3 linked regions of the Homo sapiens genome follow. The gene in region 3 interacts genetically with the main gene of each other region. Each region holds a gene or a part of one and is shown on either strand. Other genes may lie near its edges.

Region 1 (3,651 bases), on a different chromosome or scaffold from region 3:
CCGACATCACTGTTCCATGTCAAATCCATGGATTCATGAGTCAAAGAAACAGCAGTGAACAGCCTTCAGGCTACGGTTTGGGCCATTCCTCTGCCAGCGTATTCCAGCCAAAGTCTGTTTTCCTATCAGACTACTCACTGCAAGGCACAGAAGTGAGCGCGGGATCTAAGGCCACACCGCAGGGTCTGAACTCACTTAACTGGCCCAACACTGCACAAGATACTTAATCCTCCTGAACCTCAGTTTCTTCATCTGCGTACGGGGGATATGAACCCCCACATGCTGGACTGCTCTGAGAATTGAGTTAATGCGTGTAAAACATGAGAGCTGCTCTGGCACCCACCAGGCGCTCACCGGGCGCCAGCACCACCAGTGCATACCTCGACCGTGTGTGGGCGCACAGGCCTCCGTTCCTTTTTACTCCGACCGATGCTTCTAAGGAAGTCTTCGACCGCTTTTTCTGTCTGAGGCATCTGCTGAGGAGTCGCATTCACTGAACACCTGTTTGAAAAATTATGTATACATAAAACCACTGTTAGAAAAAACAGTTTTAGTAATTCATCACATTTTGTATAACTCAATAATGTTGTTTTTATAGAAAATACTGTTCAGAGTGTTAAACAGCAGCCAAATGTGGAAATGCCACGGCCGCCTCCCTGCTCTTCAGTGCTTCAGGTTATCAAGAGATTTCCGCACAGTTCAATGTGGCAGCTAATGAAGCCGTCCATACGCGGAGCCTGTGACTCTAAACTCTAGTTCTTCTGAAGAGCAAAGAAAATACAGAGACTATTAAGATCTGCTAACCGTGCCTTCGGAATTACACTATCAAAACACTGACAACTTTTAAAATTACTGTCCAGAAGTCATCAATTTGAAAATGTGAACTGGTTGTTAAAGCAGAACATTATAAACTGCAAAAAAATACCATGCTCTCAAAGTTACATGAAAATAGAACTCTTCCAAATTCCACAGAATTGCAAATACTACTATCATATAAAAGCTACTTGAACTCTACAGTATATTGACAGAGTGTATATTTTTTCCTTTCAGCTGTAAATCCTGAACTTATTCTAGTTAAAGTAACAGCAGGTACCATTATATTAATACTAACTATATCCCAGGCATGTATGCTGCCTTGCAGATATTCTTTCTTTTATTCCTTACGATAAACCTGCAAAGGAAGGTTTTATGGAGGAGGAAGCAGAAGACGCAAGTGGGTCAGCTGCCCAGGACCGCCTGGGAGCGAGTGTGAGTGCTGACCCGGCGGCACCAGAAGCCAGGCCTGCCTGAGCCCAATGCCAAGAGACCCTGATCGCCAGGCTTCACCTCTGGCCACCCACAGACCGCCCTGTAGAATCTGCCAGGGATTCTCAGGACATGACTGGGGAAAGGCATCAGGACTCTGTGTGAAGAAGGACAAGTGACTTCAGCAAACATTTTCTTGTTAAGTACTGATGAATACATCAATGTCACTGACAATAAGATGCTGAAAATAAACAATCATTTTTAAACTTTATTCATGCTCACACATCTGAGGGCATAAGGCCAACTGAAGGTATAGGACTGAGCTGCCAGATGTTTCCTCAAAGCATCACATAATTTTATAAGAAACTGCACTTTTACTCTGGTCTTCAGCAAGCTCACCTTTACAGATACCTCAGTTACGGACCATGTGCTTTTGGAAGCAATATAACTACTTGCCCTCAATCTATTTGCACTTCTAGCACAAAATTAGCCTGCTTTCTTCCCCATCTCCTACAACTTTTAATAGGCTTAAAATATTTTCTTAGTTTGTTAGAACACTTGACATTTACAATAAATTCTATAACCTTTACCAAGCACTCTATCTTGAAGTTTCTACAAGTAAGAAATACCTAAAAACTATACTTAATAGAATGAATCATAAAATATTTAGAAACAAATCACACATGCACCTCATATTATCACCATTTAACAAGTGTTTCTTGATACGCGGGAGCTTCCTCAGGATGGGTTTGATATCTGTCATTTCTGCAATCCTCTTCATCAGCCGCACCTAAGCCAGAGGAAACTCGCTCAGAGAGAGGCAGAGGCTACAACAGACCCGCTGAGTCTGAACCAAGCACCTGTGACATCAGAACCCTGCTTGGGCAGGGGTTATGTGTGCGAGTGCACGGCTTGGGCAGGGCTGGAACTGGGATGCAGGGTGGTACAAAGAGGAAGATGAGTCAAAACCAACCAACCAATTCTTCCCCATATTTAGTCAGTTAGAAAGTTAGCATTTCTGGGACATAAATTAATGTATTCCCAAAGAAATTAGTAACTCTGGAATATGTGGCTAAACCGGAGTAATAGAGGTTCCTTCCAAGCTTCCCACCTGATCCATCCCGCTGAAGGTCTCCTGCAGGTCCCCTGCGGGCGTGAGGGTCCGGCCTGCCCTGATGGATGCGTACAGGTGCCCAGAGTCAGGAATTCCATTGGCGAGCTCCTGGGCGGTCATCTTCACCAGCACCTTGAAGTGCTCCTCTTCTTCAAAGCACGGGCTATGGAAAAAGGAGAAGAAAAAATTCCTGGAGACCCATTCCTCACGTCCCTTCAGTATCATGGAAAGTTGATTAAGTTTTCAGAGTACTTTAACAACCAAAGAAATTTTATAAGTCCATATGAACTACAAGTAAAAGTCAGACTTGGAAAACAACAACACACACGAGTAAAACTGTCTCCTTTAAAGTACTTCAAACAAAGATCTCTAGTACACCCCAAGAATGGACAACTCTTGCAAATAAAGTTACTTGTTAAATATTTCACTCCATAGCTGCATCATGTCTGGCAGGTTTCGATCCAGGCAGAGAGAGGAGAAAAGCACACCCTGAACCAAAGAAAACACAGAAGAAAGGAATTAGGGCCGAATCGAACAGTGACAGACACTGGAGAAAAGCTTCCCACCGCAGCAGTCGTCTGACGGTACCAGGCTACCTGCTCGTAGGTGTCCATGTGTGAGTCGTCGGGGAGCACGTGGGGAGAAGCACTCATCCCTCCGGTCTTCAATTCTATCTGCTGAGCCTGCTCCCGGTAGTCAAGAAGGCCGCAGCCCAGCCTGACACAGCAGAGAAGCATCGCCCCGATTACAAGTCAGTCTTTACTGAATCATTTTTAAAATCGTGCATCTTGAGTTACAAGTTGCTTCCATTAATTCAATAACTGCGGCTTTGCCAACCTCTCTACACTTCGAAGGTCATAAGCAGGTGCACTCTGGCCTTCGCCCTCGAGAGTTCATGTGCCCCCTTCCCCAGGGAGACCCCAGTTTCTCCCGCCTAGGAAGTTAGCGTCCAGAGGCACAAGACACTTGGGCAGCCAGTGTCTGCACTTAAAACACCATTCTAAAATAGGCATTTCCAGTTGTAAGCTCTTCAATAAATGTTTTATGACTACTCCCTACTCTCTTCACCCAGATCACCGTGATACATACTTCCTTTGTTTTGCTCGAATGTCTGGTAGCCTGGGCGGGGGAGTCCGAAGACTAAAGGTTTTTTAAGTTTTTAAGAAAAGCAGTTTCCTCTCAGCACTCATGCTTTTGAAAGAAACATTCACAGTGACACTGCTAATGCCAGCAATAATTGAGTCAAGGGAATGACCATGAGGTGTTTTCTAAACCGCTACAAAAGGATGAAC
Region 2 (3,651 bases), on a different chromosome or scaffold from region 3:
TAAATAACTGACATGGGCCGGGCTCGGTGGCTCACGCCTGTAATCCCAGCACTTTGGGAGGCCGAGGAGGGTGGATCACCTGAGGTCAGGAGTTCGAGACCAGCCTGACCAATATGGTGAAACCCTGTCTCCACTAAAAATACAAAAATTAGATGGGCGTGATAGTGTGTGCCTGTAGTCCCAGCTACTCGGGAGGCTGAGACAGGAGAATTGCTGGAACCTGGGAGGTGGAGGTTGCAGTGAGCTAAGATTGTGCCACTGCACTCCAGCCTAGGGGACAGAGTGAGAATCCGTCTCAAAAAAAAAAAAAAAAAAAATTGACATGAAGCTTGGACTCCAGCACAGAGTAGGTGCTCAATAAATGTTAGTCTCTTGGTCTCTTGGTTTCCTCTGGATCCTAGAGATCAGGGCTCTCACCTGCAGGGGTTTAAAAATAATCCACACATGTGTACATCTCGTGGGGCCAGGTCTTTTCAATGAACCACAGGTGGTCCTGAGAAGCATGCTGCCTCTATGCCGCATTGGACCATGTGAGTGGCCAGAGTAGGCAAGATACTCGATTAACGGGCATTTTAAAGAACTGACAGTTAGGATGAATCAACAGCAATTCAAAGCAACCAAGACCTCCTGTGTACTTGCAAACAGCTGGTGCTCCTGGATACAGAGAAGAGCAAGTTTGCCAGCAGCATCCAGTTTACAAGAGCTAACCATGGCTACCTCTCTGAGAAAATACAAAACTGTGAAAGGTCAAAGCAAGTCAGTTTTAGCAACAAAGCACCTGGTTTCCAGGGAAACCAAAGGGAGATGCCAAAACGTGGGAGGTGGCTGTATGCTAACCCGATGCAGAGGACCACGCACTTTCCACTTGGCAAGCGGTTACTTTTCTGGTCAGCGATGCTGCTCAGACACACCCAGCCGGGCGCACCATCAGAGGCGGCACACGTCAGGCAGGTGTGAGCAGCTCAGGGCTAATGAAAGAAAAGTGATGGTGCCAGAGCCCCCGTGCTCAGCCCCGGTGCGCGCTGGTCTGCAGGAGGGTTTCACCAGACTGCTGAAGCCGGGGACAGAAGTGTCACGCAGTTTACCGGAAAGCTAGTTACTCAACGGAAAGCACCATCTTTTGGCCTGAGATGCCGCTCTCCGTGGTTTCTTTGGTGTTACAATGCCCAGCATTTTGCTGAATGACAATGCGGTGGCAGGTGTTTTTCTCTTAACATCCTTATTTGGAAAAATTTACAGGTAAAACATGCAATATCAGCCCTTCACCATTTAAAAAAAAACAAAAAACAAAAAAAAAAACCTGACATGTAAGATCTAAACATCCATGAACCACTGCTCTACAATAAAGCCTTAGGTTCCAAAGAGACCTCTGGGTACTACTGGATGGGATGAGGGCGGCTGCGAGGGGGGTCTGGCAGGGCTTCCACCAGCCCCTCGTCAACCAAAGCGGTTCTTCTCTGTTAGCTAGACTGAGTGTGCTGCTTTCAGACGTCAGCAAACCCCTGCTCTGGGGTAAGGGCTGGCAACCTCCTGGGATGGGACCACTGGCACACAGCGGAGCACTTCTCCAGGAGCCGGCAGATTCTGCCGCTGTGGGAGAAGGGAGACAGGCGGAGAACTCCAAGAACACACATCCTTTTGTGGCCTGGAGTTGAGAGCCAGGCTCAGCTTTGACTGCCACCTAGTGGTAGCACAGGCTGCCAACAGCGATTCCCCTGGGATCCCCAGCTGCCGGCCGCTGCCTGAGAACCAGGAGGAAAATGTCCTCAAGTGCCCCTCTGCTAACCCAGAATCCCATCGACTCCCAACTGCTGGTACAAACGGAGCAGAAAGAACTACCCGTATCAGTTGCAAGCATCCTCATTCTTAAACATTTGAATATTCAAGATATTCAAGGTATTTCTAGAAATTCAAGATATTTCAAATAAAAGCACAAGTCACGTAGTCAGGGAGAGAGTTACCCACTCTCCTTGTGCCCCTCCCACGCTAGGCAAGGCCACCAGGTGTCAGAATGACGCAGAGCACCAGCTCAGGTCCCGCGCTTGCTGCTGCCCATGAACAGCAGAGTATCCAAACCATCTCAAGGGTTCATTTCCAGCTTCAGAATGAAGATAGATAAAGCAGGGTCACATGGGGCTTCAGTAAGTACAATGCAGGAAGAAGAGTTTTTGTTTGTTTGTTTGTTTTTGAGAAGGAGTTTTGCTCTGTCGCCCAGGCTGGAGCGCAGTGGCATTATCTCAGCTCACTGCAACCTCTGCCTCCTGGGTTCAGGCAATTCTTCAACCTCAGCCTCCCGAGTAGCTGGCACTACAGACACATGGCACCACGCCCGGCTAATTTTTGTATTTTTAGTAGAGACAGGGTTTCACCATATTGGCCAGGCTGGTCTCGAACTCTTGATCTCGTGATCTGCCCGCCTCGGCCTCCCAAAGTGCTGGGATTATAGGAGTGAGCCACTGCGCCCGGCCGAGAAGAGTTTTTAAAGGCTAAAAACAATTCAAATGACAGCTAACACTTACTGAGTGTTGACAAGTTCCAGAAAGGAGTTAAACACATTTAAAGGCATTTTCTTGTTAACAGACTTAGTTGGCTACATTAAAAAACTGATGACACTGGTGTCCTCATCTCTGAGCCCAAGTGATACAAAACTGTTATAATTTGTTTATTAGAAGCTCAGGGGAAAGGTGAATGAGAAAATACAATCAATGTCAACATTATTTTATTGGTAGGGTATCTAAAAGCCACATGGTGCACTAATGACTCCAGGTAAAAGGCAGGAGCATAGAACTCTTGAGAAGCAACAACAGCCAGTGTTCACCAAACACCTAAAATGTGCCTGGCACTTTCTATTTAGTATTTCCGTTAAATCTCCTAACAACACTCAAGCTTGACACTGATAATTTTCTCCATTTTACAGATGAGGAACAGACAGATTGATTACTCAAGGGCATGCTGGTAACCCATGGAACTAGAACTCCTGGTTCCTACGCTGAGAAAGAAAGACATCTCCACCTTTACCTGTCCTTCTCAGTGGTGCAACTGTGCAGTAGACATTTCCATGCAAAAGCAAAACCTTGGTAGCACCCGATCTGTGAATGTGAAAAATATTTAAGAGTGAAATTAATAAGCAACTAGCTACACTTTCATTACCAAGATCTCAAAACAAAAGGTGGGGGCAGAAGGCAGCGGTGCTTCTCACACTATTGTTCTGGAAGCACCTGTTGAGCATTAGGCAATGGAAATTAGGAAATTAGGTCATCGGTGGGGCAGCCAGCCTCCCAGATGCCCCAGTCCTCATCTCCTGGTACCCATGCCCTGTGCAGGTCCCTCGACACTCCACCAGGGTGGCTTTCGTAACCAACAGAATGTGGAGGAACAGCACAAAGCTCCTGAGTCTAGGGATAAAAGCCAGTGTCACTTGCCTCACCAGCTCTCTTGGACCACTCGCTCTTGAATGTCACGAGGACACACAAGCAGCCCCATGGAGACGTCCATGCCCACAGTCAGGTGACAGCACCACCTTGGAGGCAGATCCTCCAAGCCCAGTCAAGCCTTCAGGTGACACGGCTCTGGCTGACACCCTGAGCCAGGACCACCCAGCAAAGCTGCTCCTGAGTTCCCAACCCTCAGAAACATGTGAGATCATCCATA
Region 3 (3,651 bases):
TGGTCATACTGCCCAAAGCAATTTATAGATTCAATGCTACTCCTATTAAATGTCAATGGTAATTGACATTGTTCACAGAACTAGAGACAACTATTTTAAAATCCAAATGGAAACAAAAAAGAATCCAAATAGCCAAGGCAATCCTAAGAAAAAAGAATGAAGCTGGAGGTATCACATTACCTGATTTCAAACTATACTACAAGGCTACAGTAACCAAAACCGCATGGTACTGGTACAAAAACAGACACACAGACCAATGGAACAGAATAGAGACTCCAGAAATAAGGCCTAACACCTACAACCATATCATCTTCAACAAACCTGACAAAAACAAGCAATGGGGAAAGGAGTCCTTATTCAATAAATGGTGCTGGGATAACTGGCTAGCCACAGGCCGAAGATTGAAACTGGAGCCTTCCTTATACCATAAACAAAAATTAACTCAAGATGGATTAAAGACTTACATGTAAAATCCAAAAGTATAAAAACCATGGAAGACAACCTAAGTAATACCATTCAGGACAGAGACACGGGAAAAGATTTCATGACAAAAACAACAAAAGCAACTGCAACAAAAGTAAAAATTGACAAATGAGGTCTAATTAAACTAAAGAACTTCTGCATAGCAAAAGAAACTGTCAACAGAGTAAGCAGACAACCTATAGAATGGGAGAAAATTTTTGCAAATTATGCGTCCAACAAAGCTCTAATAATATCCAGCATCTATAAGGAACTTAAACAAATTTACAAGAAAAAAAAACATAAAGTGGACAAAGTATATGAAAAAAACACTTTTCCAAAGAAGACATACATGCAGCCAACAAGCACACAAAAAAAAAAATGCTCAACATCACTAATCATTAGAGAAATGCAAATCAAAATCACAACAAAACACCACCTAACACCAGTCAGAATGGCTAGTATTAAAAAGTCAAAAAATAACAGATGCTGGTGAGGTTATGAAGAAAAAGGAACACTTATATGCACTGTTGGTGGGAGTGTAAATTAGTTCAACTACTGTGGAGAGCAGTGTGGCAATTCCTCAAAGAATGAAAAACAGAATTACCATTTGACCCAGCAATCCTATTACTGGGTATGTACCCCAAGGAATATAAATCATTCTATTATAAAGACACATGCATGCGTATGTTCATTGCAGTACCATTCACAATAGCAAACACATGGAATCAACCTAAATGCCTATCAATGACAGACTAGATAAAGAAAATGTGGTACAAATATATCATGGAATACTATGCAGCCATAAAAAAGAACAAAATCACGTCCTTTGCAGTGACATGGCTGGAGCTGGAGGCCATTATCCTTAGCAAATTAACACAGGAACAGAAAACTAAGTACTACATGTTCTCACTTACAAGTAGGAGCTAAATGATGAGAACACATAGACACATACAAGGAAACAACACACACTGGGGCCTATCAGAGGGTGGAAGGTGGAAGAAGGGAGAGGATCAGAAAAAATAACTAATGGCTACTAGGCTTAATACCTGGGTGATAAAATAATTTGTACAACAAACCTCCATGACATAAGTTTACCTATGTAACAAACCTGCACATGTACTCCTGAACTTAAAATAAAAGTTACAAGGCCAGGCGTGGTGGCTCAGGCCTGTAATCCCAGCACTTTGGAAGGCCGAGGTGGGCGGATCACCTGAGGTCAGGAGTTCGAGACTAGCCTGGCCAACATGGCGAAACCCTATCTCTACTAAAAATACAAAAATTAGCCAGGTGTGGTGGTGTGCGCCTGTAATCCCAGCTACTTGGGAGGCTGAGGCAGGAGAATCGCTTGAACCTGGGAGGCAGAGGTGGCAGTGAGCCAAGATTGTGCCACTGCATTCCAACCTGGGTGACAGAGCACAACTCCATCGCAAAAAAATAAAAAATAAAAAATAAACAAATAAAATAAAAGTTACAGAGATGATAAAATGCATTACTACTAGCAGACAAAACAAATTGGACTTCAAATAAATGAACATAATATAACCTACTCAAAAAGGTCAGTTCATCAATTGAAAAGCTTAAACATGAAATATTTTTCTCATTGTAAAAACAAGTACAGTATATCAAACTATGTCTGTGTATCCATAATAGCAAATTAAATTTTTTTTGTTTGTTTTTTAGCATCCCAAACCCCCCCCCAACCCCCGAGGTAACCACTTTTACCAGACTGGAGTATATCTTTCCAATTTTCTATGTATTTGCATATACATACACACACATACAAACACATACACACATTGTTATGGTCTGAACTGTGTACTCCCCACCCCCACAAATTTATATGTTGAAGTCCTAACCTCTAATACTTCAGAATGTGACTATATTTGGAAACAGGGCCCTTAAAGAGGTAATTAAAGTTCAATGAGGTCATTAAGGTGGGCCTTAATCCAATATGACCAGTATACTTCTAAGAAGAGGATATCAGGACACAGACACAAACAGTGGAAAAGACAGTGTGAAGACAGAGGTATAAGATGGCCATCTACATGCCAAGGAGAGAGACCTCAGAAGAAATCAACTCTACTGACACCTTCATCTTGGACTTCATGGGTTCCAGAACTGTGAGAAAATACATTTCTGTTGTATAAGCCACCCAATCTGTGGTGTTATGGCAAACGTAGCAGGCAAGCACACATGTACATGCACAGTTATTAAGTCACTACAGTCAGAGTAGTTGAAGAAAGAGTTCATACTTAGCAAACATTCATGCACTCAAAAATATGAATATATTACAATATTATAGTATAAGTTACTCAAGATCAGTAAAAACAATTTTATAAGTAAACCAAAATCGAAGCTTCACCTTGTCTTTTTCTAATATGCTTTGAAAAGCAGAAGTTTAAAAGTTGCTCTCCCAAAACATCAGCACCTAAGGAACTATACCCTTAGGATGCGGTTTCCCTACTTTAATATCCATCCCTCTCTAGATATTGTAAAGAAAACTTAATCAGAGGACTAATGAACATCCCAAAATACAGTGTGCAGTTAAAATTTCTACAAACAGCAAATTTTTATATCTTATTCCTCAAAGAATGTTATCCTGTAAGTCACTTTATCTTAGCAAATGATGCTCACAAATAAAGTAACTCAAAAATTTTAGGATAAAAAGTAAGTGTGCTTTGGTTATTGAACTAAAACTGACAACAATCAGTGATGCTACTCCACCACGGTACCATATGCCTAATGACAGAAATGCAACGGACAAACTTATGAGGTTGCCCTGAAGAAAGTTAGCTTTCAATTCCAAATGTATAGCAGTGGAGCAAATATTATTAATTATTATGTTAGATTTTTGCTTTGGTTTGGTTATAGAGTTTAATCATTCATTTTACATATATTTTCTGATTACCTATTACATGTAACATACCGTGCCTAGCTCTGTGGAAGATAAAAACAAAAAGATGATTGGAATATATTAGCATTTTAGGCACATAAAATCTTATCTCCTCCACAAGATACATAACTACTTGTAGGAAAAAGTGTTGTAGGAGTTCAGAGGAGGGAGAAATCAAAGTCTTATTAGCTTATAAGGAATGGTTTCAGGGAACGGACTGACCTTTGAACTAACATTTGAAAAATAGGCACCAGTTAGAGAGAGGGCATTTCAGACATAGGGTGTGGCATAAAAAA

The links.
Region 1: changes in ABCB7 (region 3) and PITRM1 together harm fitness more than expected from each alone (negative genetic interaction), as found in Homo sapiens cells (one large-scale study listed by BioGRID).
Region 2: changes in ABCB7 (region 3) and LTO1 together harm fitness more than expected from each alone (negative genetic interaction), as found in Homo sapiens cells (one large-scale study listed by BioGRID).

The regions. Positions count from the first base shown.
Region 1 is NC_000010.11:3,145,216-3,148,866, forward strand, and holds part of PITRM1 (presequence protease, mitochondrial isoform 2 precursor), read right to left. Parts: intron 3,415-3,651; exon of another isoform or gene 3,077-3,414; coding exon 2,956-3,076; coding exon of another isoform or gene 2,953-2,955; exon of another isoform or gene 2,849-2,952; coding exon 2,772-2,848; exon of another isoform or gene 2,523-2,771; coding exon 2,357-2,522; exon of another isoform or gene 2,036-2,356; coding exon 1,935-2,035; exon of another isoform or gene 502-1,934; coding exon 381-501; exon of another isoform or gene 1-380. UniProt on the Homo sapiens protein: Metalloendopeptidase of the mitochondrial matrix that functions in peptide cleavage and degradation rather than in protein processing. Has an ATP-independent activity. Specifically cleaves peptides in the range of 5 to 65 residues.
Region 2 is NC_000011.10:69,668,731-69,672,381, forward strand, and holds part of LTO1 (protein LTO1 homolog), read right to left. Parts: intron 3,090-3,651; coding exon 3,019-3,089; intron 1-3,018. UniProt on the Homo sapiens protein: The complex LTO1:YAE1 functions as a target specific adapter that probably recruits apo-ABCE1 to the cytosolic iron-sulfur protein assembly (CIA) complex machinery. May be required for biogenesis of the large ribosomal subunit and initiation of translation.
Region 3 is NC_000023.11:75,146,226-75,149,876, forward strand, and holds part of ABCB7 (iron-sulfur clusters transporter ABCB7, mitochondrial), read right to left. Parts: intron 1-3,651. UniProt on the Homo sapiens protein: Exports glutathione-coordinated iron-sulfur clusters such as [2Fe-2S]-(GS)4 cluster from the mitochondria to the cytosol in an ATP-dependent manner allowing the assembly of the cytosolic iron-sulfur (Fe/S) cluster-containing proteins and participates in iron homeostasis.